Homo sapiens: one gene and its partners. Changing the gene in region 1 together with any one later gene gives a genetic interaction. Each region holds a gene or a part of one and is shown on either strand. Other genes may lie near its edges.

Evidence for each region.
Region 2: changes in EMC2 (region 1) and MCM3AP together harm fitness more than expected from each alone (negative genetic interaction), as found in Homo sapiens cells (one large-scale study listed by BioGRID).
Region 3: changes in EMC2 (region 1) and SEC22B together harm fitness more than expected from each alone (negative genetic interaction), as found in Homo sapiens cells (one large-scale study listed by BioGRID).
Region 4: changes in EMC2 (region 1) and CYB5B together harm fitness more than expected from each alone (negative genetic interaction), as found in Homo sapiens cells (one large-scale study listed by BioGRID).
Region 5: changes in EMC2 (region 1) and MBTPS2 together harm fitness more than expected from each alone (negative genetic interaction), as found in Homo sapiens cells (one large-scale study listed by BioGRID).

Annotation. Positions count from the first base shown.
Region 1 is NC_000008.11:108,479,196-108,485,619, forward strand, and holds part of EMC2 (ER membrane protein complex subunit 2), read left to right. Parts: intron 1-6,424. UniProt on the Homo sapiens protein: Part of the endoplasmic reticulum membrane protein complex (EMC) that enables the energy-independent insertion into endoplasmic reticulum membranes of newly synthesized membrane proteins.
Region 2 is NC_000021.9:46,233,349-46,239,262, reverse strand, and holds the end of MCM3AP (germinal-center associated nuclear protein), read left to right. Parts: intron 1-2,283; coding exon 2,284-2,434; intron 2,435-2,936; exon of another isoform or gene 2,937-3,039; intron 3,040-3,836; coding exon 3,837-3,995; 3' UTR 3,996-4,130; downstream 4,131-5,914.
Region 3 is NC_000001.11:120,151,284-120,157,707, forward strand, and holds part of SEC22B (vesicle-trafficking protein SEC22b), read right to left. Parts: intron 5,910-6,424; coding exon 5,755-5,909; 3' UTR 1-5,754. UniProt on the Homo sapiens protein: SNARE involved in targeting and fusion of ER-derived transport vesicles with the Golgi complex as well as Golgi-derived retrograde transport vesicles with the ER.
Region 4 is NC_000016.10:69,426,219-69,432,642, forward strand, and holds part of CYB5B (cytochrome b5 type B), read left to right. Parts: intron 1-6,424. UniProt on the Homo sapiens protein: Cytochrome b5 is a membrane-bound hemoprotein functioning as an electron carrier for several membrane-bound oxygenases.
Region 5 is NC_000023.11:21,863,617-21,867,116, reverse strand, and holds part of MBTPS2 (membrane-bound transcription factor site-2 protease), read right to left. Parts: intron 1-3,500. UniProt on the Homo sapiens protein: Zinc metalloprotease that mediates intramembrane proteolysis of proteins such as ATF6, ATF6B, SREBF1/SREBP1 and SREBF2/SREBP2.

The DNA of each region.
Region 1 (6,424 bases):
AGCATTGGACTTATATATGCCTTTGGGGCTTTATCAAATGTGTTGTGTTTTGAATTAATTTGTAGTTTTAAGATTACCTTTTTTTCCCCTCAAGAGGAATCTGTTAGTATTATTATTTCATAATTAGCCTTACCATATGGAAATCTCAGTGGTTCTGCATTTGGCAAACGCAAAGTAATTCTAAAAACTCAGAAAGGATAAATAAATATCACGTCACATTTCAGAAGCAGATTGGGTATGTGAGTGTATTATTAATCATAGGTATCTCAAGAAATAGAAAAGAAGGAAGAAAGCCTTAAACTAATCAAACTGCATAACAAAGTTTGTGCAGTCTGCTTACACTTCAGATCCTTTACTGAAACTTCTCCATTTGTATCTTAGTTTTCTAAAGTTCGTCCTTAGCAGATTTTTTAGGAAATTATTTTTCGTTAGAAATTTGCTCATGGGAAAACACATCTTTTTATGTCTTTAGCCTTATTTGTCTATAGCCTTTATATTTAAAGGACAATTTGGCTTTTTATATACCCGTTAATACTTTACCTAAGTATCTTAAGCATACTGTTCAGTTTTGTTTTGTTTTTAATATAGACGAGATCTTGCTATATTGCCCAGGCTGGCCATGAACTCCTGGCTTCATGTGATCCTCTTACCTCAGCCTCCTAAGTAGCTGGGACTTCAGGTGCAGGCATCACCATGCCCAGCTATTTCATTCTGTTTCAGAATAAAATGTTGCCGTCAGGAAATATGATGCCGTCTTGACTTACTTTTTATCATAAGTGACTTGTCTGGTTACGCAAAGGAATTTTTTCTTTATCTTTAAAATCCAGTAGTCTTACTATGATTTGTTTTATTGATTATTCTTGGGTCAGTTTTCCCAAATACACAGTACACCCATTTAGTACATCAGTTTAGCCCTTTTATTTGAGAAAAGTTGCTTTTAGAATTACAAATATTTTTTTCTCTGCTTAGTTTTCTTTTTCAGGGTTTCAGTAATACGTGTATTAGACTTCATTTTTCTATGTCCTTTATTCATTTTCTTTCAAATTATTTTGTCATTTTCTGTATTTTATAAAAATATGAATTTGATTCATATTTTTCTTTCCTCCATGTTTAAATGAGGTAGTTTTCCTGGACTATTAGGAGACAATGTTTATGGAATGGCAGGGAGTTGGAGATAGGTTAGGGTAGCTTTCCCAGCTTGGCTATTCTATGGCCGTCTCCTTTTTTGCTAAAGAGAATTCAAATATGACCTCTTTGTATAGCCGGTCTTTCTTAGAACTGAGTATGAATGGCCAGTCTGTCTTAGAACTCAGTGTGACTCAGAAAGATTTTCTGGCTTCAGCCCTCTGTTCTGTTTCTAGAGCCCTCAAAGTCTTGAATTCTGAGGTGTTGCTCTCACTTTAAATGTTACATATTGTTGTTACAGTTTGTGTTTCTTCCTTTTTGTTTTGTTTTCTTCTGGGATTGCTGCCTCTGGGCATCACTCCTTTCCTCACCCCTCCTTGTCTGAACCATCTCTCCTTCTTGCCCTGGTGTTTCTGCCCTGTTCAGTTTGGTTTCAGTTTTTAATTGTTTTTCTTCAGGGTGTGAGGTTTTGTCCTTCTGGAAGAGGATGTTTGCTAGATATTTTAGAAATTTTAAGATATTAGACGGTTAGACTTGTCTAATCTCACATTTATGAGCAGTTTTTTACATTTATCTTTGTTTTGGAGCTTATGAAGACTTCTAGGCCATTGGCAGCTGCATCATCTCAGGTTTTCTTGTTTAGTGGATTAAGAATTCATAATTTGTTTGGTTTTTGGTTTCTTGTAGAGTAGTAGGTTGTCCTCTATTACTTTCTATTCCTCCTACCACACAGTTGTTAATCTTTTGTTGGTCATGCTGCTCTTGATGACATAGTCACATTCTAGGGTTTGGAAAATTGACTGTTACCTAGTTTTTTTGAAAATGTCACCTGTGGGCGTGGGTTCTGTTATGTTGGTTTTGGTGCTGGCTTTTTGTTGTTCGTTTTTGCCCTTCTGGTTGGAGAAAATTGAGAAGATTTTACAAATGTAGTGCCTCCATAATCACATCATTGAAAGTCACCTTTGTGTATTTTTATTGTCTGTTATAGAGCATGTTAGTTTTGTTGGCATATTCTAAGTCAGAGTATTTATAAATATTAGTGAGACTGTGCTTCTTCAAATGCAGTTTGGGATAGCTCAGATCTGTAATGGAGTTCCACACAGAGTAGGCTTGGGGGTGTGTGGGTGTGTGTGATTTATGTAATATTAAAAAAAAAGATTTGTGTAATATAAAAGTAACGTTATGCATACTACATAATTGTTTTTAAGATATGAGAAACAGCTACTCAGAGTGCTTTTTTGACATAACTATTTTAAAATCAATTTTTACTAAATTAATAACATAGAAATAAGAATTATAACAGAAAAAAGGATGCAAGTCATAAATGTGCCTTTCAGTGACTAATATAAGGTAAATGTATCCAGGCTAATAAATATAAACATTGCAGCATCCCAAAGCTCTCTTGGTAAGTCCTCTTAATTTCTCCTTTTGTATTCCTTAAGAGTACTCACTTATAACCCTATAGTTTATGGAATCAGCCAGTATGTATTCATTTTTGTCTTGCATATTTCTATCATTATTCAGTTTATGGGATTTATCCTTGTTTGTGTCTGTAGTTCATTCATTTTCTTCTGTAGTTCATTGTATGAATGTTATAATTTAGTTATTGCTATGCATTTGGAATATTTTCTGTTTGGGCTATTTTGAATAAACTATACTGAATATTGCTGTACAGGTCTTTTGGTGGAATATATGTGCAGTTCTGTATACCTTTGAGTGAAAATATGGGTCATAGAATGTATGTATATTTAACTTTAGTAGTTAAAGGCAATTTTCCAAATTAGTTTACTCCCACCAGCGGTAAGAGTTCTAATAGCCCCACATCTTCACCAACACATGGTTCTGTCAGTCTTTGTAATTACAGCCATTCTGGTACATGTGTAGAGTGGTACTTCATGGTTTTATTTTGCATGTCCCTGATGATCAGTTGCCATTTGGATGTCCTCTTTCGTGAAATGTTTTTCTCATTGGTTTGCATGACTTATTTCTTTAGTTTTTTGCTTATGAGCCCTTTTTTAGTTATATGTATAAGCAAATATGTATAACTTCTTACTTTTTTGCTCATATGATCTTGATGAATAGAAGTTCTGAAATGAAATGTGTTCGAATGCCTCAGTCATTTGTTTGTGTTTTTTGTGTTCTGTTTAAGAAATCTTTTGCTACTCACGGTCATAAAGAATTCTGTGTGTCTTCAGAATTTCTATTCTTTTACTTTTCGTATTTAATCCACAACCCATTTGGAATTGATTTATTTTTAATTTTTAATTTTTATTTTTTTAAGACAGAATCTGGTTGGTTCTGTTGCCCAGGCTGGAGTGCAGTGGCATGATCATGGCTCACTACACCCTCAACCACCCAGGTTGAGTTATCCTCCTGCCTCAGCCTCCCAACTAGCTGGTACTGTAGACGCATGTCACCGTGCTCGGCTAACTTTTAAATTTTTTGTAGAGATGAGGTCCAGCTGTATTGCACAGGCTGGTCTCAAACTCCTGGCCTCAAGTAATCCTCCTGTCTCAGCCTCCCAATGGAGTGCTAGGATTATAGGTGTGAGCCACCGCATCTGGCCTGGAATTGATTTTTATGTATGATGTGAAATAGGGGGTCCATTGCTCCCCATATGGATATCCAGTGTTTCTGTCCATCTTTGTGTTCCATCATGAGTCCCGTCCATGGAAGCTAGTTCAATGTAGTAAAGAGAAGATTACAGATTTGAACCCATGTTGTCTGGGTTCAAATTTTGACTCTGATATAATTATTAGCTATGCAAACTTGGATAAATTACCTAACATCTCTTGCTGTATCTTTTCTTCTGCAAGATGGCCATAATGAAATATTCTGAGAATTAAAGAAATTAAAACATAAGTTATTATGTTTTTCCTTTTCCCTGTCTCTTCAGTGTGACAAGACCCCCTTGAGGTATATTGAGATATAATTTACATGTAATCAAGTGCATATATTTTAAGTATACAGTCTGAGTTTTGACAAATGTGTACATCCCCTTACCAGCCCCCCACTCAAAATAGCATTTCCATCACCCAAGAAACTTTCCTTCTGCCATTTTGCAGTCAACCTCATCCCCCACTGGGAGACAGACAAGCACTGATCTGATTTTTATCACCAAACATTAGTTTTGCTTGTGCTATAACTTTGTATAAATGAGTTCATAGGTTATGTGCTCTTCTGTGTCTGGCTTCTTTCACTCAGCATGTTTTTGAGATTCATTCATTTACAGTCCATTTCATTTTTCCTATTACTTTGTCTACCCATGTATTTTCCACAAATTATGTAAAGGTAAATTTAAGCCCAAGCAAGGTATCTCAGTTATTACAATGCATGAATCACTGACCTCTGAATTTGATAAGCAAGTTTTTATTGTTTGGTTGTTTTTGTGTTTTTTTCTGGTGAGTTTTCTTATAGATCTTACAGAGAATTATGAAAGATTTACTTAAGCAAAATCTAACTGTATGAAAACAAAAATACAGTATTTGTGAATAATGTAAAAGAGTATATAACTTTCAGAGAATGACATTCTTGATAACTAGGTAAATCTTTGGGATCTCAGTGAGAATTTCTTAATCATATCTAGGAATATAAACCGGTATAGAGTATATAATATTTCGTATGGGATTTTTCTACGTATTTATAAATTAGGGAAAATTAGGTTTCAAGAACTGCTTTTCTTTCTTTGTTTCCACTTAATGATGAAACAGAATATGGCTACTATTTGCTCGTCAATTAGGTAATTGGTTTAGCATGTTCAGTAGAAGCAGACACATTTGATTAATGCACATGAAAAACTTTAATGTGAACCTACTCACAATGATTTTCCAGATAAATCCTTCTTTGTTGCACTGGTAAATCTGTGCTAGTGATTTATATGATATTTATGATTGCAGCAGTGATTCTGTTACTATCCTTTTGGGAAACAGAAAATTAAATCATGATTTGAGGGAAAAAATGATTCTGACTTAATCAGTTAAATTGCCATACAATTCTGGAATAGACAGAATAATTGCATGTCAGATTAAATTTGAAGTGATAGATTTGTATTTCCAACTTTCTTTTATTTGTTCTGACACAAGTAAATTTATTTGGTTTATTCTAAATTGCACTGGTTGTGAGTAATGTTGACACCATCTCAGTTGACTCTTTAAAATTAGCTAATTTTAAAAGATCACACTGTATTATTTTTATGTTTAAGTATAAACCAAGAAAAATACTGTATTTAAAAATACATGTTATGGTTTTAGCTCTACATAATTTTTTTTATTTTTACTTTGCTATTTAAAAGCAATTAGAATAAATGTTACGTGGTAATGTTACTATGTGATGTCCTATTCTGTACCCCTCCCCCAACCCATAAAACTTTTTCTCAGAATTAGACCTTTAAGTATCTGATTAGGACCGTTCCTATTTATGTTTCATAAATGGTGGTAAATGAAAAAGCTTTCTGTTTCTGGTAAATCCTTGTGTAAGTGAATTTATTAACTGGATAACAGAAGTAATAAGCATGCCTCACAGCCTTTAGTCCTCAGGGGAAATTATAAAAAGACAAAATTTTAAATGTGATATTGCTGTTACCATATTTAACATATGAATTCCTTAAATTCGTGATGCCTTTTGAAAGGCAAGGTGATCTTGATTTTTATGAGAAGCTTTTTTTCTTTTTCCTCTGGCATTTCCCCTAGAAACATCCTTTATTTACTTTTTCAAATCAGGATTCAGCTACAGAAACTAATCTAATGGTTTAGAGTGTAGGAAGTGAGGGAATCATAATGTTAAGCTGTAGCCAGAGGGGTCAGAGACAGGTTACCAATTCCTGAAGCTTGTTACTTCTATGATGTTACCTGTGTTTGATCACTTAATCTTTCTGAACAGGTCATGAGAAGTTTGCCAAATTAAGTTAATTACAGAAGACAAGAAACACATCATAAATCAAGTACTAAGTGCTTAAGACAGCATTGTTACTTGAAGAAATGATCATTCACTTGAAAATGTATTGAGTGGTTTGATGTTAACTTGAAAACACTAGATGTTGCTAATACCAAGTATTTTAATCATATTTAACCAGGGAGAAAATGGGTAACATATATATATATAAAATATATACATAATATATAATTAATATATATACATATATATAATATATATAGGTAACATATATATATAAAATATATACATAATATATAATTAATATATATACATATATATAATATATATATGTATATATATATACACACACACACACATACACACACAATAAACTTTCTCCCATCTCCATCAAGGAACACTTACTTAT
Region 2 (5,914 bases), on another chromosome or scaffold:
CCTCTCAGTGGTTTCCCTCTTTCACCTGCAATCAAAGGCAAACTTTGCAGGGGTGGCCAGGGCCCTGAGTGATCTGCCCCCCATTTCCTCTCTGACCTCCGCTCCTTCCTTGAGCATGGTAGGCAGTTCACAGTTGGGCCTCTGAGTTTGCTGTTCCTTTTGCCTAGGACTGTCCAGCCCCTCCATTCTCCCCAGCATCCCCATGGCTGATCTTGTACTCACTTCAGATCTCTACTCAAATGTCTGCTTCTGTTAGGCCCTGCTTGCCCATCTCCGACCTTCTTGTTTCCATGGCTCTGCTTTGTCTTTCTCATCTTCAAACCATGTTTCTCTTGTTATGTGTTCCTTGTCTGTCTCTCCTCACTAAAGTATAAATTGCTTAGGGCAGGGCCTCTGTTTTGTTTCAGTGCAATATTCCTTGTACCTAGAATGATGCCTAGCATCTGGAGGAGGCTTAATGAATATGTTTTGGAAGGGTGAATGAATGTGTCCGATTACTAAAATCAGTCTCTATAATTTAAGTGGTTTGGGATGAGATTTTTTTTTCCTTTTTATTAGATAGAGTCTCGCTCTGTTGCCCAGGCTAGAGTGCAGTGGCACAATCTCGACTCACTGCAACCTCCACCTCCCAGGTTCAAGCAGTTCTCCTGCCCCAGCCTCCCAAGTAGCTGGGACTACAGGTACCCATCACCATGCCTGGCTGATTTTTGTATTTTTAGTAGAGACGCAGTTTCACCATGTTGGCCAGGCTGGTCTTGAACTCCTGACCTCAGGTGATCCACCTGCCTTGGCCTCCCAAAGTGCTGGGATTACAGGCATGAGCCACTGCACCTGGCCAAGATTGTTTTTCTTGAAAAGACCGGTATATGGAAGTAGACAGCTCTAGAGTATGTTAGGTGGCAGTGGGATATTATTTTGAGTTAATTTTAAGCTATAAGCAGCAATCCACTCATTTGGAAAATGTCAGAAGAATTAATTATAGATGCATAAAACCAAAGTAAATTAAATAAGATAAGCCAAACAAGACAATTACAAGTAATGTTAAGTAACACATCGAAGCAGTTGTTTTTGGATTAATACCACCTTTTTCATTAAATATAAATTGGAATTGGATTTATAAATTAAAGGGAAGTGGTTTCTCTAATTTTTTTTTTTTTTTTTTTGAGATGGAGTTTTGCTCTTGTTGCCCTGGCTGGAGTGCAATGGCGTGATCTGGCTCACTGCAACCTCCGCCTCCCGGGTTCAGGCAGTTCTCCTGCCTCAGCCTCCCAAGTAGCTGGGATTACAGGCACGTGTCACCATGCCTGGCTAATTTTTGTATTTTTAGTAGAGACGGGGTTTCACCATGTTGATCAGGCTGATCTTGAACTCCTGACCTCAGGTGATCTGCCCGCCTCGGCCTCCCAAAGTGTTGGGATTACAGGCATGAGCCACCGAGCCCAGCCTAGTTTTTTTTTTTAAATTAAGCTTTATCATAGGAAGTTGTTAAATTTTTAATAAGTACATTTCTGCTTCTCAGTTGATGTCATAACTTAGTTATATTCTTAGTAAAAAGCAAAGGCTTAAGGCTGGGTGTGGTGACTCATGCCTATAATCCCAGCACTTTGGGAGGCTGAGGTGTGCACATCACTTGAGTTCAGGAGTTGTAGACTAGCCTGACAATACAGCAAAATCCCGTTTCTACAAAAAAATACAAAAATTAGCTGGGTGGCATGCGCCTCTAGTCCCAGGTATTTGGGAGGCTGAGGTGAGATCATTTGAGCTTGGGAGGTCAAGGTTGCAGTGAGCCAAGATTGTAACACTGCACTCCGGCCTGGCCAACAGAGCGAGACCTTGTCAAAAAAAAATAATAATAAAATTGGCCAAGCACAGTGGCTCACTCCTGTAATCCCAGCACTTTGGGAGGCCGAGGTGGGTGGATCACCTGAGGTCAGGAGTTCAAGACCAGCTTGGGCAATATGGTGAAACCCCATCTCTACTAAAAGTACAAAAAATTAGCTGGGCACAGTGGCACTTGCCTATAATCCCAGCTACTCAGGAGGCTGACGCAGGAGAATCACTTGAACCTGGGAGGCAGAGGTTGCACTGACCCGAGATTATGCCACTGCACTCCAGCCTGGGCAACAGAGTGAGACTCTGTCTCAAAAAAAAAAAAAAAAAAATTATATAAAATTTTAAAAAAGCAAAGGCTTAAAAAGTTTTTAAGTATATATAGAAGATTAATGAACAATAGTTAACTTCCTAATGCTCAAATATTTTTGAATTTATTACATATTGTTTCAGGTTTGAAGATCAGCTTCAGCAATGGTTGTCTGAAGACTCAGGAGCATTTACGGATTTAACTTCCCTTCCCCTCTATCTTCCTCAGACTCTAGTGTCTCTTTCTCACACTATTGAACCTGTGATGAAAACATCTGTAACTACTAGCCCACAGGTGAGAAGAACGTATACATTTGGCATTTACATAAGAATTAAAGATTGAGAGAATGGCTGGGGAAAAAAGTAATATCACGATTTATCCTATGATGTTTTGATGACCGACAAATTATTAGCTCAAATTAGACCTTTTCTTAAACTTTATCCATATCATTGTTAAAGAGACCCAACTGATTTTGAGTTTCTGCCTACGAAATAAATGAAGAATAGAATTGAAATATTCTTAAGAACTGAATAAGACCTGTAACTGTGTGCTGATGTGTAATTAAGGGCATTAAGGTGATGACAGCAGCTTCTGTTGGAGCACATATTGTCTGAGCTTTGGCATTACCCAGACCTCTCTTCTGGGATTAATTTTTCCTGAGGAAAACTAATGAATGAGGAAGGTAAGCTCCCAGAAGTCAAGAGCCTCACCCAAGAGTGTTCAAGTAGTGAGTGGTCAGGTTGCTTTTCAAAGCCAGATCCAACTGGCTCCAAAGCCTAAGGTCTTTTTACCTTACCATTCTTCCTTCAGTGGTTAAAGATGCAAAAACAGAGTTTCAATCACAGATATGTGCCACTGAACAGGTAAAAACTGTGCTCCTGGACTGGCTTTAGGAAGTCCTTCAATAGAGGAGAAAAGCAAATTAAAATGATGTACTGTTTCCATTCATCAGTTTGGCAAATACTTTAAAAATATTCATACCCTTTGAATTACCAATTCTAACCTAAAGAATTCTGACCTACCAGATATTCCCCAAAAATTAATGTATAAAAATGTTTACTGTAGCATTATTGTATGAAAGTCGAAACAGAATAAATATCCGAAGATGGGAGTCTGATTAAACAATTATAACACATTCATGTGATAGAATAATTCACAGCCCTTGACGATGATATTTTCTAAAAATGACTGGCTGGGCGTGGTGGCTCATGCCTGTAATCCCAGCACTTTGGGAGGCTGATGAGGGAGGATCGCTTAAGTCCAGGAGCTTGAGTCCAGCCTGGGCAACATAAAGAGATCTCATCTCTACAGTACATAATTAGCCAGGCATGGTGCTACATGCCTGTTGTCCCAGCTACTCAGGAGGCTGAGCTGGTAGGATCACTTGAGCCCAGGAGTTTGAGGCTGCAGTAAGCTCCGATCATACCACTGCGTTCCAGCCTGGGTGAAAAATGACTGACACTGGAAATTGTTCATGATAGAATACAAAGGCAAACAGTCTATATACAGATACCAGCTGAATGTACGAGCTAAATGAGGCTGGAAGGATATACAAAGGATAATTTTTTTCCCTCTGTAAAAATAAATGACTACTCAGATGAGGTTTCTAACATGATCCAGATCTAGTACCTTCCCAGAGATAGGTCGTGGTTTATTGACATCCCAAAACTGTTCAGTTTCTTTTTTATTCAAATAGAGTGACATGATGAGGGAGCAACTGCAGCTGTCAGAGGCGACAGGAACGTGTCTAGGCGAACGACTAAAGCACCTGGAAAGGCTGATCCGGAGTTCAAGGGAAGAGGAAGTTGCCTCTGAGCTCCATCTCTCTGCGCTGCTAGACATGGTGGACATTTGAGCAGCCTGACCTGTGGGGAGGGGGTCTCTCCCGAAGAGTTTCTGTTTTTACTCAAAATAATGTTATTCTCAGATGCTTGATGCACTGTTGGAAATGTGATTAATTTAATCATGCAGATAAACCATTTAAATGTCAGTCTCCCAGTTTTTCATAATGAAAAGTTGTTTCCCCTGTGTGACCTCTTCAATATTCTCCTATATTCATGACCTCCTCAGATTGTCACCCACCAGCATATGCTCTGAGGCAGTTTAGAGCTTACATTTCCATGTATAAAAGGCGATTCATTCTCTCAGCAAACTTGCAGTCCTTGATGTGCCAGACATCAGTGATGCAGAGATAAAGTAAGACACAGGGCCTCTGCCTGCTAAGCCCACCCAGCTTACATCCAGGAGAGTCAGGTACTTATGTACATAATTCTCAGAGAATGTGCATGAGGCGTGGGCCTGAATTGGTAGCAAGGAAAAAACAGAGGATGGAACAGGGTCTGGTTGGGTAGAGGAGAAACAGAATTCCCGGAGAGGAGTGCAGGGGTGTAGCTGGAGACAGTGTACTTGAGAGGACATGATGAAAGCGTGGAGGTACCAGCTTGGTTGTGTGGCCAGGTGAGGGGAACAGGCCAGCAGGGTGAGGTCAGAGATTCTTGTCACCTTCTTCTGAGAGCTGTGAGAACCCGTTGTTGAAGATTAGGCAGAGAAGTGATCTGGTCACATTTTCTTTTAAGAATGGCATGTAGGGCAGGAATCTTGAGAGGTGGGTGCTGCAGCCATCCAGGTGAAATTCAAAGGGAATAAGCGTGAGTTTGTTAGCAATTGGTGTGAAGAGAGGGGATAAAATTTGAGCCATATACAGAAAGAGGTATTAATAGACTTGGTGATGTTGCGTATGACCACCAATCTTAAACTGGCACTCAGCATCTCCTGACTGTAATCCTACATCCCCAGACTCTATTTCATGTCTTCTCATTCTCTTCAAACCTCCAACATTCTTAGATCATGTCCTCCTTATTTCACTGAGAAAACAACAGCACTAAGAAGAGAACCTCTTCCTCCACCAAATCAATCCCTGCTTCTCCAAACACACACTACTCAACTCAGGGATCTTTAGTGATTAGCTTCATGTAAAGACTTAAATAATGCTATTTCTTAATCTTGACTTGACATTGTTGACTTCCTACAATGGAAGAGGAGTTAGCTTCTCTTACACTGTCTTTCCCACAACATATTATCACCCCCACCCTCGACACCCACATTTCCTCTCCTATTAGTCTCCCTAAGCAGTTTGATATTGGCTGAAACCTGCATTCACAGTTTAGTATAACTGTATGTTTACCATTTCCTGTTGAGCCCTTTATTGGTTTATGATTACATTTCCTTTAGGTACAACTTTTGATTTTTCCTGGAGTTAATTACATTGTTTTTCTCATTTGCTTGGTTTTCTATGCTCTTGTCACTACTTTACCCAAAAGTCGCTGCCCTAAATGTAAAGCTCTTCCCAACAAAGTCATGTGCATCAGGTAATATGCTCCACTTTCTCTTCGAGATGTTCCTGAGAACCCCCTGTCTTCTTGCCATAACTTGGACATTTCCTGGATTCTGAATCATATTTTCCTCTTGCTTGGTTTTCTCTTCTTGATGGAGCCTGTCCTTTAGTAGCCTCCTGAGCTTGAATATCTAAAATGTCTTTATTTCTACTGTAATATTATCAAATATATATCTGGTCTTTGTCTCTGCCTTCTGATATACAACTCCTAAAATCCTTGAGATCTCTAAAGTGATGTCTTTTTGTATGCTAGTAAGATGACTGATGGCGGACAGCTCCTATGTAGCTTCAGGATAGGGACTGGACATCTGAAAGACCAGGGCATGATTAGAGGGGTTGAAACTTTCAGCCCACCCCCCAAACTCCCAGAGGTTGGGGGA
Region 3 (6,424 bases), on another chromosome or scaffold:
CAGGAGGTAAGTCTAGAATGGCACAATGGGGCCAGACTGCGAATGGCAAACAAGTATGTGATCTTTTATTCTAAAGAAAATGTAGTATGATTAGCACACACACACACAAAAATTATTGGCCGGGCGCAGTGGCCCATGCCTGTAATCCCAGCACTTTGGGAGGCCGAGGAGGGTGGATCATGAGGTCAGGAGTTCAAGACGGTGAAACTCCATCTCTACTAAAAATACAAAAATTAGCCAGGAGCTGTGGCAGGTGCCTGTAATCCCAGCTACTCAGTAGGCTGAGGCAGGAGAATCACTTGAACCCGGGAGGTGGAGGTTGCAGTGAGCTGAGATCGCGCCACTGCACTCTAGCCTCGGCGACAGAGCAAGACTAAAAATAAAAATGAAAAAATTATTATCCATGGTATTATCATGGTAGTACTGACTAAAAGAGGGACATGTGTAACAAAATCAGTAAGGAGGGTACTCCAAGAATCCATGTTAAAGTTAATGAGGGCTTGAACCCAAACATAAAGGATGGAAATGATGTAATAAAATACCTTTTGAAAGTTATATTAAAAAATTTTTGGTTAATAGTCTAGTTAGAGGTGAAAGAAGAAAGCAGAGGAGTCTAATGCAATGCGTGACTTGTAGCTCAGGTAAAGGGGTGGCAGGTGACGCTTAAATACTAGAAATATAAGAAGCAGCACAGGTTTGGTTTTATCTTTGAGAACAATGGAGTGGAGGTATGCTTTAGATGCAATTATTTATGGGATATTCAAAACAGATATATATGAAGCAAAAAACTTGGGCCCAAAAAACAAGTTTGAAGGTATATTTGGGAGTTACCAGTAATATAGGTAACTGTTGAAGCTCTAAATATAGAAGACAAACTAGAGGAGCTTGTTTCTTGAAGAATTCTTGTCACACTTGACATTTTTTACAGAGATTTCTTAAAACAGGGGCATATCTTCTTTGGCTAACATATGCAGACTAAAATGAAAGAGTATAGTATATTATAAAATCAATAAAAGGTAAGATAAATTTAGGCCTAAAAATAAAGAATAAATACACTCAGTTGATTCTGAAGCTCTAATTTACAGATGCAAAATTGTACCAGTACATTAACTCATATGTCAAAACAACATCTAGAGAAACAAAAAATGAAAGTAAAATGGAAAAAGATAAAAGAAGTGAGGCAAGGAGAAGAGAATGGACAAAAGGAGATAGGAAAAACAGGAATTTTTTTTTTAAGGGCTAAAATTTTAGTGAATCAGATGTGGAAAACAGTTGGATTAACATTGAGATCAAATGAGAAAGGAGCAAATAAGGAAAGAGGTATTACAAACCAAGAGTAAAAAAGGGAAAACAAAATAACAAAAGCAAAAACTATTTAAAAAGAATAAAGGAAGACGTGATAATGAAGTAAATTTAAAAAGTACGGAATAATAAAAAGAAATTGCAAAAAATAACTTTTGAAAATAAACATACTAATAACTTGACAATAAAGTGAAATGTGTAAGACAAACGTATCTGTGTCATTATTTAGGAGTAGTGAAAAGTACTCTTAAATAATAATTTGGTATCTAGCAGGCCTGGATTTGAATCTACTTTAACTTGCTAGCTATGTGACCTTGGGCAAGCAAAGAAACTCCTCATAACCATTGTAATAATACCAGCAAAATGCCTTACACTTACGGCTCAAAAAATGAAGGAAATGAGAGAAAAAAGTATAGATTACTATATGGAAGTCAAATTTCTAGTGACTTTTCTAATCCAAACATGAATTGTTACAGTACTTGAAATAAACTTTATGAGAACTGAGTGACTACATTGCTTCAGATAGTTTTATACTGCTAGGTCAACGCTGCCTGACAGTAATAAGAATAGGATGTGAGATTCAATATGCTCATTCTATCTCAAACTCTGTCACACATACAATGACTGCTATTTACCTTCCTCCTGAGCCATCTGGGAAAAAACCAACCAACCAACCAACCAAACAAAAGAAAAACCCACCAGGTAGGAGTCAGTTAGTTCTGCTAACTAACTAACCAAAAACCTTAATTGTATGGCCATCAGCACCCTAGCCCTTTGTCATGAAAGCTACCAATAAGGTGGAAATTTAAAATATGAGATATTTTATTATACATGTTTTATTAAACCCTATATGTGCAGAAATGATTGTCCATTTTCCTTCTTAACTTGCTTTTGTAAGACTTATTAAGTAGAAAATATAAATCTCAAGCTCCTTAAATGTGATTTTGAGGAACTGAGACCAAAACAATTTTTTGCTGTGGAACCAGATCCTTGAATGCACTACAGGAAAATATTATTTGATATGAAATTTTTTTGGTACACACAATTTTTCAAAAATATATCTCTCTCCACAAAGTTAATTCAAATTGTAGAATTCTTCCAAGTCACAGATGGAGTTTTCAAGGCTCTGGGTACTTACCTTTGAGTTCCACATCCTTTATCTCTGGAGCTCTTAACTGAGGGAACATGGACCATTAGGTCATGAACAGACTTTGTAGTCTTTGAACAGCCTGAAACAGTATGTGATACTTGATGTGCATGTACACAGGAACATTTTTCTAGAGTAATGGCACATACCTTTCATCAGATTTTCAAAGGTTTCTCAAAATGCTCAAGAACCATTGTTAGATATTTAAATAACCAGAGTGTACAGTGTCCAAATATTTCCAAATTTTGACACTTGTAAGATGTCTTAATTAAAACAAGCCATGAAGTTCAGCGTCACAATAACCAGAAAAGCACTTGTGAGAGTAGTTCTATGTCTTTACTTCCTAGTGGTTTACACACTCTTTAACCCATATGGCAATCTGGCTTCTGTCTCCAGTGCTCTGGAATTACTTCTGCCTGTATGATTAAGTTCCTCATTGTTAAATTCGAAAATACATTCTTTGGTATTTATTTGACCTCTTGGTGGTAATATAGCGTAAGAGCACAGACTCTGGAGCCAAACTGCCTAGGTTCAAATCTTAGCTCTATTACTTTCTAACTCTGTGACTTTGGGCAAATGACTTAACTCTCTCATGCCTCAAAGCAGAATCCTTTGTAAGGTTTATTTATATAGTGGTGTAAAGAGTACTTACTTCAAAAGCTTTGGTCAGTGTGAGAAATAAGCTCCTAACAAAGAAAGTGTTATGTAATAGTTATTATCTGGTACCTCTGATCACAACATTTTTGAAAATCACTTGAAATCTGCCTAAGTTTCATTCTGCCTTTGATGGCTCCTTATTTTCATCTCCCTACTTCAGGCTTCCTCCCTAATATATCTTTTATGCCAATATTATGATCACTTGAAACTATAAATCTGATGCCATCCTTGGCCACTACCATTAAGATGGTCTAAACTCCTCAGCATGATAGACAAGTCCCTTTATGATAGTGTACCCATCTAGTTCTCATTCCTCAAGTCTCCTCTGTTGTCTATGCTTACCCTATGGGCTAAGCTGAATCAAGCTGTTACATTTCCAAAATATGCCTCACTGTCTTTATTCATGCCTTTGCACATGCCATTGACTCTTCCTAGAATGCCCCATTCTCCTTCTCTAGAAAGTCTTCTCTTAACATACTTCTTCCCAAAATAAATTAGGTGTCCTTTCTTAATATGCCTCCAATAACCCCATACAGTATTTATCCCATTCTATTTTAGATGCCAGTTTGGTTGATGATACATTTCATCTAGTCAGATCTTCCCACTGCCTCTTATAAAGAAAACCAGGAGCCATATTATGATATTCTTGTTCTCTAATTTTTCTGCTGCCCTGATCTTAAACCACTTTCTTCTCCCTTTGTTGACAATTACCCCACCCCTTATTTCTTAATTAGCCCAACAAGATTAGATAGAAATGTATCTACAAAGGATATATGTATATAAATTAACTAGATAACAAAACTTCACACTGAAGTGAACATTCTACAAGTATTTATTTCATTGCTGACCATTAGGTTGCAGCATGCAACTCTCAACAATGAGCTGCCCCTCTCCACTCCTATAGAAGCTCCAAATACTATGGTACCACTATGTAGGTTTTCAGCCTTTCAAAGGCTTTTATTATTAACATCATCATTACTTCAGCAGGAGCCTTTTAGGGACTTAAAAGCACTGATTATCTATAAAAAGTAACTTCATATTTCATGCACAAAATTCCCAATTGGCAGATTTAGGTCCATAAAAGAAAGGAAAAAAATTATTCTAGTTATATAAATTATCAGGAATAAAATAGCATTTCTCCTTGCCTTGTTATAAGGAAATAATATATTTTTCCTTACCAGGAATCAGGATAGTATCTTTGATGATCCCTCAGGGTTATAAAATTGCTTACTGGTTAAAGTTTTTTGCCAAAGATATTAAGAAATAAAAAGTTCGCTCATTTTCCTGTGCAATTTAAAGAAATATTTGCAGTATGTACAGGAATTTTAAGTTATATTGCAGACCCTGGCAATAATATTTAAAAGGCCTATTTTCCCCATTAAAAAATTCTACCTCAGAAGGTAAAAGGAAATCTCCATCATCCCTGAGCAGAAAAGGAAAAAATCATGGGTACTTTAATTAGTTAATAGAAACCACTGTAAATGAGTTATCTATCTCCAGAACATTCTCAGAGAATTTACACGAACTAAAACAGGAATGAAGTGCTCTCAGAGACTTTTTCTCAGGTAAATGTATTTAGTAGTTTGAGTAGTTGATCTGCAAAAACTTTAACTTTAATTAACTACATAGATGAATATTTTTTATTTTGAAATTTGAGAATGTCCTAAGAGGATGTCTACAGGATATGAAACTACTGGGTGCAGGAAAATTTTTTAAATGTTAGCAAATTGTGGCAAGAGGAAAACAAACAGTGGAGAAAACTGTGGTAGAGAAAGTAAAGAAGGGGCAGGAGAAAGCTGTAATTATAACCTGGGCCTGCCTTTGTTCTCATGAAGCCAGGGGCCTCTCCATATCCTATACTTGCTCTTACGCTAATAACAAACCAAATGCTGCAAAATAAAAGTAATAATGACCCAAACTAATTTAAGTCTTTTGTTTAAGGAGTAAATGAGAGAAACATTTTAGCTTCTTAATCAAGGAGTGCTATAATTTCAAGGCATCTTAATATAATTCACTTACCCTAAAGCAATTGTGCAATAAGCAAATTATAAAAGGAAAACAACAAAGGTTAACTTTCTACAGGGGCCAATAGACAAGATCTGTGGAGCACAGCAATTAACCTTCACATACTGGAGTCTTGTTTAAAAGGCCATCAAAAACTCAGATTACTGAAAATCACAAATGTCACCAACAAAAGGAATGTTGATTAGAGTCAAAAAAAAAAAAAAAAAAAAAAACACCTTCCCAAAGGACTGCCTTCTTTGAAGGAATTTCAGAATGTTGCTAGCACAGGTTGACTAAGTTAAATCTCATTGATGGCTCCATCAGAGAATGAGAATGCCCCAGCCAGTGCTGTTTTTAAAATGCACTGGGAGGGAAAAAACGAAATTAACAATCTACTATTCCCTAATATATATGGCTTGGCACCCAGAGAAAGCCTCTGCCCCCGAAAGAGACTTTCTACATAGGGTTAAGCTTCATTAAATGAGGTGCAACCTTTCATTTTCAGGGCATCTCTTTTCTTGCAAGGTCTTTAGAGGCAGAAGTTCCACTTGGATTCTAATACACATCTCTGTGAGCTCAGTTTCCTGAAAATATACACCTACTGGGTTCTAGGTTCTCCCTTACCAGTGACTGTATTCATTATTTCACAGCCACCAGAATCGGACATACACTATTAACATGATGAAAAATACAGCTACTGCTGCAAGTTTGGCATAAGTGGAACGCATGTTCAAGTACTTCGCATCCTGGCGGTATTTCTTGGACAGACTGGACAAATTGTTAGCCTTTGAATCCAATGCTGTCAAAGAGGAAAAAAGGAAAACATTAATTAGTCCCTGGAAGTATTTTACCGAAAGTATTAAGGCAAACCAAAATGAGCAGCACTGCAACAACCATGAATCTTAAATCATCATTTTTATTTTAAGGCTAACATTGCATATACTAATTAACTGATGATGCTGATCAGATGATGTCTGAATTTTTGAGGCTATATAGTAAGGTGGTTAGAAGTGCAGGTTCTGGCCTCAGACTCTTTGGTTCAGATATCACCTGTACAAGTTATGTGACATTGGTCAAGTCATGTAACCTATTTAAAACCTAGTTTCTTCATCTATAATTGGGGATAATAACAGTAACTATGTCATAAAGTTGTATGTACATGAGATTGCCTGTAAAGTGAGCAACAATGCCTGCACATGATAAATTATAATAATTATTACATGTTAATAATTATTATCTTCATAATCTTCTAATGGTCTGAATCATATTCTCTTATATTTTGAAAAACGATAATGATAACCCATGTAAAACAAA
Region 4 (6,424 bases), on another chromosome or scaffold:
GAAACCCCATCTCTACTAAAAATACAAAAAATTAGCCAGGCGTGATGGTGGGCGCCTGTAGTCCCAGCTGCTCGTGAGGCTGAGGCAGGAGAATGGCGTGAACCCGGGAGGTGGCACTTGCAGTGAGCCTAGATTGCGCCACTGCAGTCCAGCCTGGGGGACCCAGCGAGATTCCATCTCAAAAAAAAAAAAAAAAGTACTTTCCCGGCCAGGTGTGGTGGCTCACGCCTGTAATCCCAGCACTTTGGGAGGCTGAGGCGGGCGGATCACGAGATCAAGAGTTCCAGACCAGCCTGACCAACATGGTGAAACCCCGACTCTACTAAAAATACAAAAATTAGCTGGGCCTGGTGGTGGGCGCCTGTAATCCCAGCTACTCAGGAGGCTGAGGCAGGAGAATCACTTGAACCTGGGAGGCGGAGATTGCAGTGAGCCATGATTGCACCACTGCACTCCAGCCTGGGCGACAGAGCGAGACTCCAAAAAAAAAAAAAAAAAAGCTAGTGGAGGGTGACTTGGATAGTAGTGATTTTTTTTTTTTAACAGAGGTACAAGTAACAGGTTCAGAAAGATCCTGGTCATACAATCAATTAGTAGCAGATTTGACAGATCCCTTGATTTCTCTTGTCTGCATAGCATTACTTCAAAATTCTAGCCTTAGCTATGACTTCTGGTATTTGCTTCATAGTAAGTTTCATGCTAAAGCATGGTTCATAATGGGTAGAAAATCAAGTTTTTTGGCTGGGCGCAGTGACTCATGCCTGCAATCCCAGCACTTTTGGAGGCACAGGCGGGCAGATCACCTGAGTTCAGGAGTTCGAGACCAGTCTGGCCAACACGGCGAAACCTCGTCTCTACTAAAAATACAAAAATAAGCCAGGCTTGGTGGCACCTGTGATCTCAGCTACTTGGGAGGCTAAGGTAGGAGAATCGCTTAAACCTGGGAGGTGGAGGCTGCAGTGAGGTGAGATGGTGCTGCTGCACTCCAGCCTGGGTGACAGAGTGAGACTCCATCTCAAAAAAAGAAAAAAAAAATCATGTTTTTCATTTGTGGTTTTATTTCCCTCCATTTTTTTTCTTGATTGATTCAGAATAGATGGTGAGCTTGGAGGGAACACTCAGCCCTTACAGAGAGCATTAATTCAGTCTCAAGTAATAGTTGCTAACCTGTTTCTTTCTTTTTTTTTTTCCTCTGTGAAGATTCCAGAAGTAACTAACCTGTTTCAACCACATGCTGATATAGCCAGAGACATCACTAATGTGCCAAGGTTTCTCTTGGAGCTTGAGCTGCAGCTCTTTACCTGCAGTTTTGTTTTTTTTGTTTTGTTTTTTGAGACAAGGTCTTACTTTCACCCAGGCTGGAGTGCAGCTCACTGCAGCCTCAGTCTCCTGGGGTCAAGTGATCCTTCTATTTCAACCTCCCGAATAGCTGGGAAAAGGTGTGCACCACGACGCCTGGCTAATTTTTAAAATTTTTTGTAGAATTGGGGTCCCACTGGCTGGGTGTGGGCTCATACCTGTAATCCCAGCACTTTGCGAGGCGAAGGTGGGCAGATCATGAGGTAAGGAGTTCCAGACCAGCCTGACCAAAATGGTGAAACCTCGTCTCTACTAAAAATACAAAAAAATTAGCTGGGCGTGGTGGCACACACCCGTAATCCCAGCTACTCAGGAGGCTGAGGCAGGAGAATCGCTTGAACCCGGGAGGTGGAGGTTGCAGTGAGCCAAGATGGTGCCGTTGCACTCCAGCCTGGGCGACAGTCAGACTCTGTCTCAAAAAAAAAAAAAAAAAGAATTGGGGTCCCACTATTGCCCAGTGTGGTCTGGAACTCCTGGGCTCAAGGGATCCTCCTGCCTGGGCCTCCCAAAGTGCTGAGATTACAGGTGTGAGCCACTGTGCTCAGCCTAATTAGCTATTCTTATTTATTCTGTTTTCTTGTTCATTCCAAGCCTATTCATTCATTCACTTATTCAAATATTTATTAAGCCTTTACTATGTTCTAGACACTGTTCTAGGTGCTGGGGATTTAGTAGTGAATAAACAGCTATGCCCTCATGGAGATTACATGGCACAGGAGGCAGACGATAAGCAGAGTAAATAACTAAAATATATACTACATTAGGTAGTGGTAAGTGCTAAGAAGAAAAATAATACAGGGGGCTGGACACGGTGGCTTAGGCCTGTAATCCCAGCACTTTGGGAGGCCGAGGCGGATGGATCATGAGGTCGGGATTGAGACCATCCTGGCCAACATGGTGAAACCCCATCTCTACTAAAAATACAAAAATTAGCTGGGCATGGTGGCATGTGCCTGTACTCTCATCTACTTGGGAGGCTGAGGCAGGAGAATCACTTGAACCCAGAAGTTGGAGGTTGCAGCGATCCAAGATTGTGGCACTGAACTCCAGTCTGGTGATAGAGTGAGACTCCGTCACAAATGAAAAAAAAAAGAAAAATAATACAGGGAAGAGGACTGTGGAATATTTATGTGGTGTGAGGAGGAGGGTTTGAAATTTTAGCGATGGTGCCGAGATAACTTTATGAAGATGACTAAGTAAAGGCCAGGAGCAAAGTAAAGGAGCTAGCCATGAGGGTATCTGTAGGAAGAGCATAGAGCATTCCTGGCAGAGGAAACAAGTTCAAAGGCCTTGAGATGGGAGGATGTCTGGTATGTTTGAGGAACAGTCAGGGAGGCCACAGTGGTTGAATAGTTGCACATGAGATCAGAATGATCAGGGGAGGACAAATCATGTACAACTTCACAGGTTTTAGGAAGGACTTTGGCTTTTATTCTGAGATGGGAAATCATTGGAGCAGAAGAGTGACATGATGTGACTTAATGGCGTAATAGGATCGTTCTGACTACATTGTTGTGAAAGACTGAAGGAAGAGTGTGTCTGGAGTTGGTTCCTTCCGGTGGGTTTTTGGTCTCTCTGACTTGAAGAATGAAGCCATAGACCTTCGCGGTGAGTGTTATAGCTCTTAAAGGTGGCACAGACCCAAAGAGTGAGTAGCAGCAAGATTTATTGTGAAGAGTGAAAGAACAAAGTTTCCACAGTGTGGAAAGGGACCAGAGCAGGTTGATGCTGCTGGCTGGGGTGGCCAGCTTTTATTCCCTTATTTGTCCCCGCCCACATCCTGCTGATTGGTCCATTTTACAGAGTGCCGATTGGTCCATTTTTACAGAGTGCTGATTGGTGCATTTACAATCCTTTAGCTAGACACAGAGTGCTGATTGGTGCATTTTTACAGCATACTGATTGGTGCATTTACAATCCTCTAGCTAGACACAAAAGTTTGCCAAGTCCCCACTCCACCCAGGAAGTCCAGCTGGCTTTGCCTTCTTAAGAGGACAAGGGCAGAATTGAGGAGACCAGTTAGGAGGCTGTTTTAGTAATTAGGCAAGAGATAGTGGGTTGTACCAGAACAAGTGTCAGATTTTGGATGTGTTGTGATGGAAGAGCCAATAGGATTTAATGATGCGCCAGATTTGGGGAATGAAAGAAAAATGAGTCAAGGATAACACCAAAGTTTTTGGCTTATGAGTCTTCAAGAGTTGGGTTGCTATTAGATGAGAGAGGGAAGATTTACATTGGTATTCATCCTTCTCTTTCCAATCTGATGTCACTTTGGGGCCCCTCCTTTAGCAAGAGGTTCCTAATCTTAAGTGTCCTGTGTCTGTAGCTTACCATTTTTTTGATTAATGACTGGTTAGAGTATGATACTGGAGTTTGAATGTGGTAGTTTAGAATTAGTAATATAATTGAATTGTCTTTCCCTGGCAGATTAATTTTGCATTGTTTGAATCAGTGCATTCATGAGTTGTTGAAATCATGAATGAAAGTAGTACATGTCATTATCTTTCCACCATTTAGTAGTTTAGAAAAATCACATAAAAATGATTGTAATATCTTATGACATTGATAGAAAATATCAAAGTGCATCTCTCTTATCAAGGGTAAAATTTTGTGAAACTTTGTTCAGTTATATATAATGTATTTTTTTTTCTTTTTTTTGGAGACAGTCTGGCTCTGTTGTCCAGGCTTGAGTGCAGTGGTGCCATCTTGGCTCACTGCAGCCTCTGCCTCCTGGGCTCAAACAATCCTCCGCCTCAGCCTCCCAGGTAGCTGGGACTACAGGTATGTACTACCACACCCTGCTAATTTTTTTGGTATTTTTTTTGTAGAGATGGGGTTTCATCATGTTGCCCAGGCTGGCCTCAAACTCCGGGCTCAAGTGATCCTTCCGCCTTGGCCTCCCAAAATGTTGGGATTACAGGCATGAGCCACTGTGCCTGGCCTATAATATCTCATGTATATGGTGTTTATTGGATTGCAGTGTAAAATTATTTCCTTACTGGGTATTACAAGTGAAAATTTGGAAGCCATTGACTTGTGTATAAATAGTCATTTGTCAAAAGAGTAACTTGAAATAACATTGTGATATTTTAAAACTTTTTTTTTTTTTTTTTGAGACAGAGTTTCACTCTTGTCGCCCAGGCTGCAGTGCAATGGCATGGTCTCAGCTCACTGCAACCTCTGCCTCCCAGGTTCAAGTGATTCTCCTGCTTCAGCCTCCTGAGTAGCTGGGATTACAGGTGAATGCCACCATGCCCGGCTAATTTTTCTATTTTAGTAGAGATGGGGTTTTGCCATGTTGGCCAGGCTGGGCTTGAACTCCTGACCTCCGGTGATTCACCCGCCTCGGCCTCCCAAAGTGCTGGGATTACAGGTGTGAGCCACCATGCCCAGCCCTATTTTAAAGCTTTATATGTGTATTTATTTATTTATTTATTTTGAGATGGAGTCTTGTTTTGTCGCCCAGGCTGGAGTGCAGTAGCATTACCTTGGCTCACTGCAACCTCTGCCTCCTGGGTTCAAGCGATTTTCCTGCCTCAGCCTCTGGAGTAGCTGGCACTACAGGTCCCTCCCACCACACCTGGCTAGTTTTTATGAGATGGGGTTTCACCATGTTAGGTAGGCTGGTCTCGAACTCCTGACCTCAAGTGATCTGCCCACCTTGGCCTCCCAAAGTGCTGGGATTACAGGTGTGAGCCACGGCACCGGCCTATATGTGTTTTTAGAAACTGTCACCATAAATGAGAATATTACTTTAGGAACCATCTCATAAATGGGATAACATTTTATTAACCCAACAAATATTTGTTAAGTTCTATATAGTAGTAGGCCCTGGTGGTGTATAAAAATAAACATAAACATGGAACCCCAGCCTGGGCGACAGAGTGAGATTCTGTCTTAAAAACAAAACAAAGCTGGGTGCAGTGGCTCACGCCTGTAATCCCAGCACTTTGGGAAGCCAAGGTGGACAGATCACTTGAGCTCAGGAGTTTGAGACCAGCCTAGGCAACATGGCAAAACCCCATCTCTACAAAAAATACGAAAATTAGACGAGCATGGTGGCATGAGCCTGTAGTCCCAGCTCCTCAGGAGGCAGGGGTGGGAGAAGGGCTTGAGGCCAGGACATCGAGGCTGCAGTGAGCCGAGATAGCACTACTGCACTCCAGCCTGGGTGACAGCGAGACCCTGTCTCCAAACAAACAAAACGAAAATATCCCATGATACTGCCTTCTTGAAGCTACCATTCTAGAGGAGTCAAAACAAAAACAGACAGATGAAATAATTTTAAATTATGGCACTTTTATGAAGAAAACAAATGAGTTGAGAAAGAAAAATCAGGAAAGATTTAATTTAATAAGAGTGATCTGGGAAAGCCTCTGTGAGAAGATAACATTTAATTGAGCTGATGGTCATGAACCTGATTTGGAAAGAATACAGAAAAGAGCATTCCAGCAGCATTTGAAGTCAAGCAAGAGTTTGGCACATTAGTGGGACTGAAAGAAGCTGTGTCTATAGTGAATGAAGGACAAGAATGGCCAGAGAGCTAGGCGGGACCCAGGACATGCAAGGTCTGGTAGGTAGTTTGGATTTGATCCAAAAGGTAATAGAAAACCACTGACATGTTTGAAGATGAGGGATGACATTGAAGCAATTTACAGACAGTCCCTGACTTACTAGGGCTTGACTTAAAATTTTTTGACTTTACCATGGTGTGAAAGTGATATGTGAGTACTCATACAAGCATTCTGTTTTTCACTTTCAGTATGGTATTCAATAAATTACATGAAATAGTCAGCACTTTATTGTAAGATAGGCTTCATGTTAGATGATTTTGCCCAACTGTAGGCTAACGTAAATGTTCTGAACACATTTAAGTTAGGGTAGGCTAAACTCTTTCAATCCCAATAATTTGTTTGAATACTACATCTTCCGTGCATATACTTATATGTGCAAACATGTATATACTTATATATACAAATATGTACAAATATATACAGAAATAGAGTCATAGTATTCTATTAGTTGATTTGCCCTCGTAGTCGTCATAGTATTTATTGAGTGCTTA
Region 5 (3,500 bases), on another chromosome or scaffold:
CTCCCCTTATCCTTTCTGATAAATTTGAGAATCATTTTGACAACCACCAAATATTATTCAAATTAGGATTTTTTTTCTTTTTTTCTTTTTTTTTTTTTTTGAGACAGAGTCACGCTCTGTTGCCCAGTGGCGAGATCTCAGCTAACTGCAACCTCTGCCTCCTGGGTTCAAGTGATTCACCTGCCTCAGCCTCCCGAGTAGCTGGGATTACAGGCGCCCACCACCACGCCCGGCTAATTTTTTTGTAGTTTTAGTAGAGACAGGGTTTCACCATGTTGGCCAGACTGGTTTTGAACTCCTGACCTCAAGTGATCCGCCCACCTCGGCCTCCCAAAGCGCTAGGATTACAGGTGTGAGCCACTACGCCTGGCCCACATTAGGATTTCTAATGTCACTGCAATGACTGCAATAACTAGGGGTAAATCCATAATTTTACATTTCTGACATAGGAACACGACATCTGTTTACTGAAATCTTCTACATCTCTCAGTACAGATTTGTAGTTTCTCTATATAGGCCCTGTGTACTTCTTTTAAAATGTTAGTTTTTTATTTTTTATATGTCACATTACTTTCTGAATGAGATCTTTTCTTCCTATTACATGATCTGTTTCTTTCAGATACACAGGAATACTACATTTATTTTTGTATATTTACTTTGTAATTAATCACCAAACTGAACTTTCCATTTAGGATGTCTTAGTCTTTATTCTCTTGGATTTTCCATTATTTGCTAATAATAATCATTTATCTCCTCCAACATTCATACCTCATCTTTTCCTTCCTGTTTGGTCTTATAGCAATGACTGTAACTTCTAGAACACTTTTCAATAGTTGTGATGGAATGCCTTTTTTGCTTTCTTCATGATTTTAATAAAACAACAGCCAAGAAACAGTAGGACTTAGATGGAATTGAGGATCAATTTTATTCTGGTTTATATACTAAGCAATGAGACTGGGGCAACAGTAGAAAAATCAGAATATGGGAGACTCAGGGTTTAAAAATATCATGGGGCCGGGCACGGTGGCTCATGCCTGTAATCCCAGCATTTTGGGAGGCTGAGGTGGGCAGATCACTTGAGACCAGGAGTTTGAGACCAGCCTGGGTGACAGAAAGATACTCTGTCTCAAAGAAACAAAAAAACAAAACAAACAAACAAACAAAAATCATGGGTCAAGGGAGAAGAAAATCTATAGTTGTCATCAAGGCAGCAAGATACCCATAGACTTGAAGCTGGTGATTATTATTAAGCGGGGGCTAAGGGCTACCCCAATCAAGCCCTACTTATGCTTAGTGTGGTTTGCAAATAATAATAAAAAAAAACCACAACTACCTTAATTCTCTAAACACACAGAAATGATTTACAGGTCACCAGATGACTGAATAGGTAAAATAACAACTCAATATTCCTTGAATAACTCACAGTAGTTATAGCTGAAAGAATGTAAACTATCAATTTGGCAAGGCTTACACTGTGTTCTAAGTTTAAATTCCAGCTTACTATAATCACAACATCACTTTTATCACCAATGTTTTTTACTTTGCCCTCAAATAAACTTACAACTGGCTTATACAAATAAGAACAGGGTTTTCAATATTTAAGAAGGATTTAAAAACATTTAAGTATAGAAACAGAATGGTCAAATTTTACTTCCACTATTTATAAAGGAATTTTTAGCAACAAAGCATAGAGAATTTTTTTAAAGCAATCTACTCTTCACTTGGAACCAGATAGCAGGTATTGTTTAATCCCTCTTCTAAAAATTCTATACACCATAATTCAAAATTTAAACATCTTCATTTACAGTGTGCTCAGGAAGTATCTCATCTCATCTCTCTTTTTTCCCCACCAAATTTCAGACAGATGTTTAGTGGCTTTTTCTTTTCAAAATCAGTATATATTTCATTTTTTTTTTTTTAAAGAAATAGCCCCGTGTGGTAGCTCTAGCTCATGCCTGTAATCCCAGCACTTTGGGAGGCCGAGGTGGTTGTATCTCTTGAACCCAGGAGTTTGAGACCAGCCTGGGCAACATGGCAAGACCCGCCTCTCTACAAAAAATACAAAAATTAGCTGGGTGTGGTGGTGCACACCTGTGGTGCCAGCGACTTGGGAGACTGAGAAGTGGGATGATCACTTGAACCCAGGAGGTCGAGGCTGCAGTGAGCGGTGATTGTACCACTGCCCTTCAGCCTGGGTGACAGGGTGATATCCTGTCTCAGAAAAAAAAAAAAAAAAGAAAGAAAGAAAGAAAAAAAGAAAAAAACCTATTACATATACAACTTATTTTGCTTTTGAAACAGAGTTCTCACTCTGTCATCCAGCTGGAGTGCAGTGGTACAATCTCTGCTCACTGCAACCTCTGCCCCCCAGGCTCAAGCCATCCTCCCACCTCAGCCTCCTGAGTAGCTGGGACCACAGGCATGCACCACCATGCTCAGCTAATTTTTTGTATTTTTAGTAGAGACGGAATCTTGCCATGTTGCCCAGGCTGGTCTCAAACTTCTGAGCTCAAGTAACCTGCCCACCTCAGCCTCCCAAAGTGTTGGGATTAAAGGCGTGAGTCACCACACCTGGCCTATATATGCAACTCTTTAAAAGTAGCATTATAAAACTAGATTTATTGGGAGGCTGAGGCGGGTGGATCACCTGTGGTCAGGAGTTCGAGACCAGCCTGGCCAACGTGGTGAAACCCCATCTCTAAAAAAACATAAAAAATTAGCTGGGTGTGGTGGCAGGTGCCTGTAATCCCAGCTACTTCGGAGGCTGAGGCAGGAGAACCACTTGAACTCAGGAGGCGGAGGTTGCAGTGAGCCAAGATCGTGCCATTGCACTCCAGCCTGGGCAACAAGAGCAAAACTCCGTCTCAAACAAACAAACAAAAAACAAAACAAAACAAAACAAAAAACTAGATTTAAATGACACCCTGGACTTTTTACATGGAAGTGGGAAGACATTTTAGAAGCAATGAAATTATATTCCTAAATTTAAAACCAATAAAGTAGGCAGAGGGTACACACATATTTCTCTCTCCCTCTAAATACATAATTTATGTACATCCCTAAACTTTGAGGAACACACAGGTTTCCCACGTTGTCTTCCACTTTGATGGCTACACCACGGTGAGCTCACAGCTCAGCAAACATTTAGCAGGGATACTAAACTCTTCTTTTTAGAGACAATTCCAGATCTTTGAATTTGTCCTGTCTTGAATTCAGGGCAAGATAAGCATCTCCTCCCCACCCCTAACCTTGCCCCCTTGCCTGGGAAAGACGGCAGGGCAAAGCTGTTCAGCTGTCTACTAGGCTGACAACTCACAACTGGGAATGAGAAGTTAATGGGCTAGGTGATGTTTGGGATAGCGGGACTAGTTAGTTCTATACCATTTAATAAGCTCTGAAAGAGGTGCGTGGACCCAATTATTGGTGGGGATATATATAACCTTCTTTAGTCTTAGTTTTGGACATTAGGTGTCAATTTTAAGGAAAAAGAAGTCTCAGTA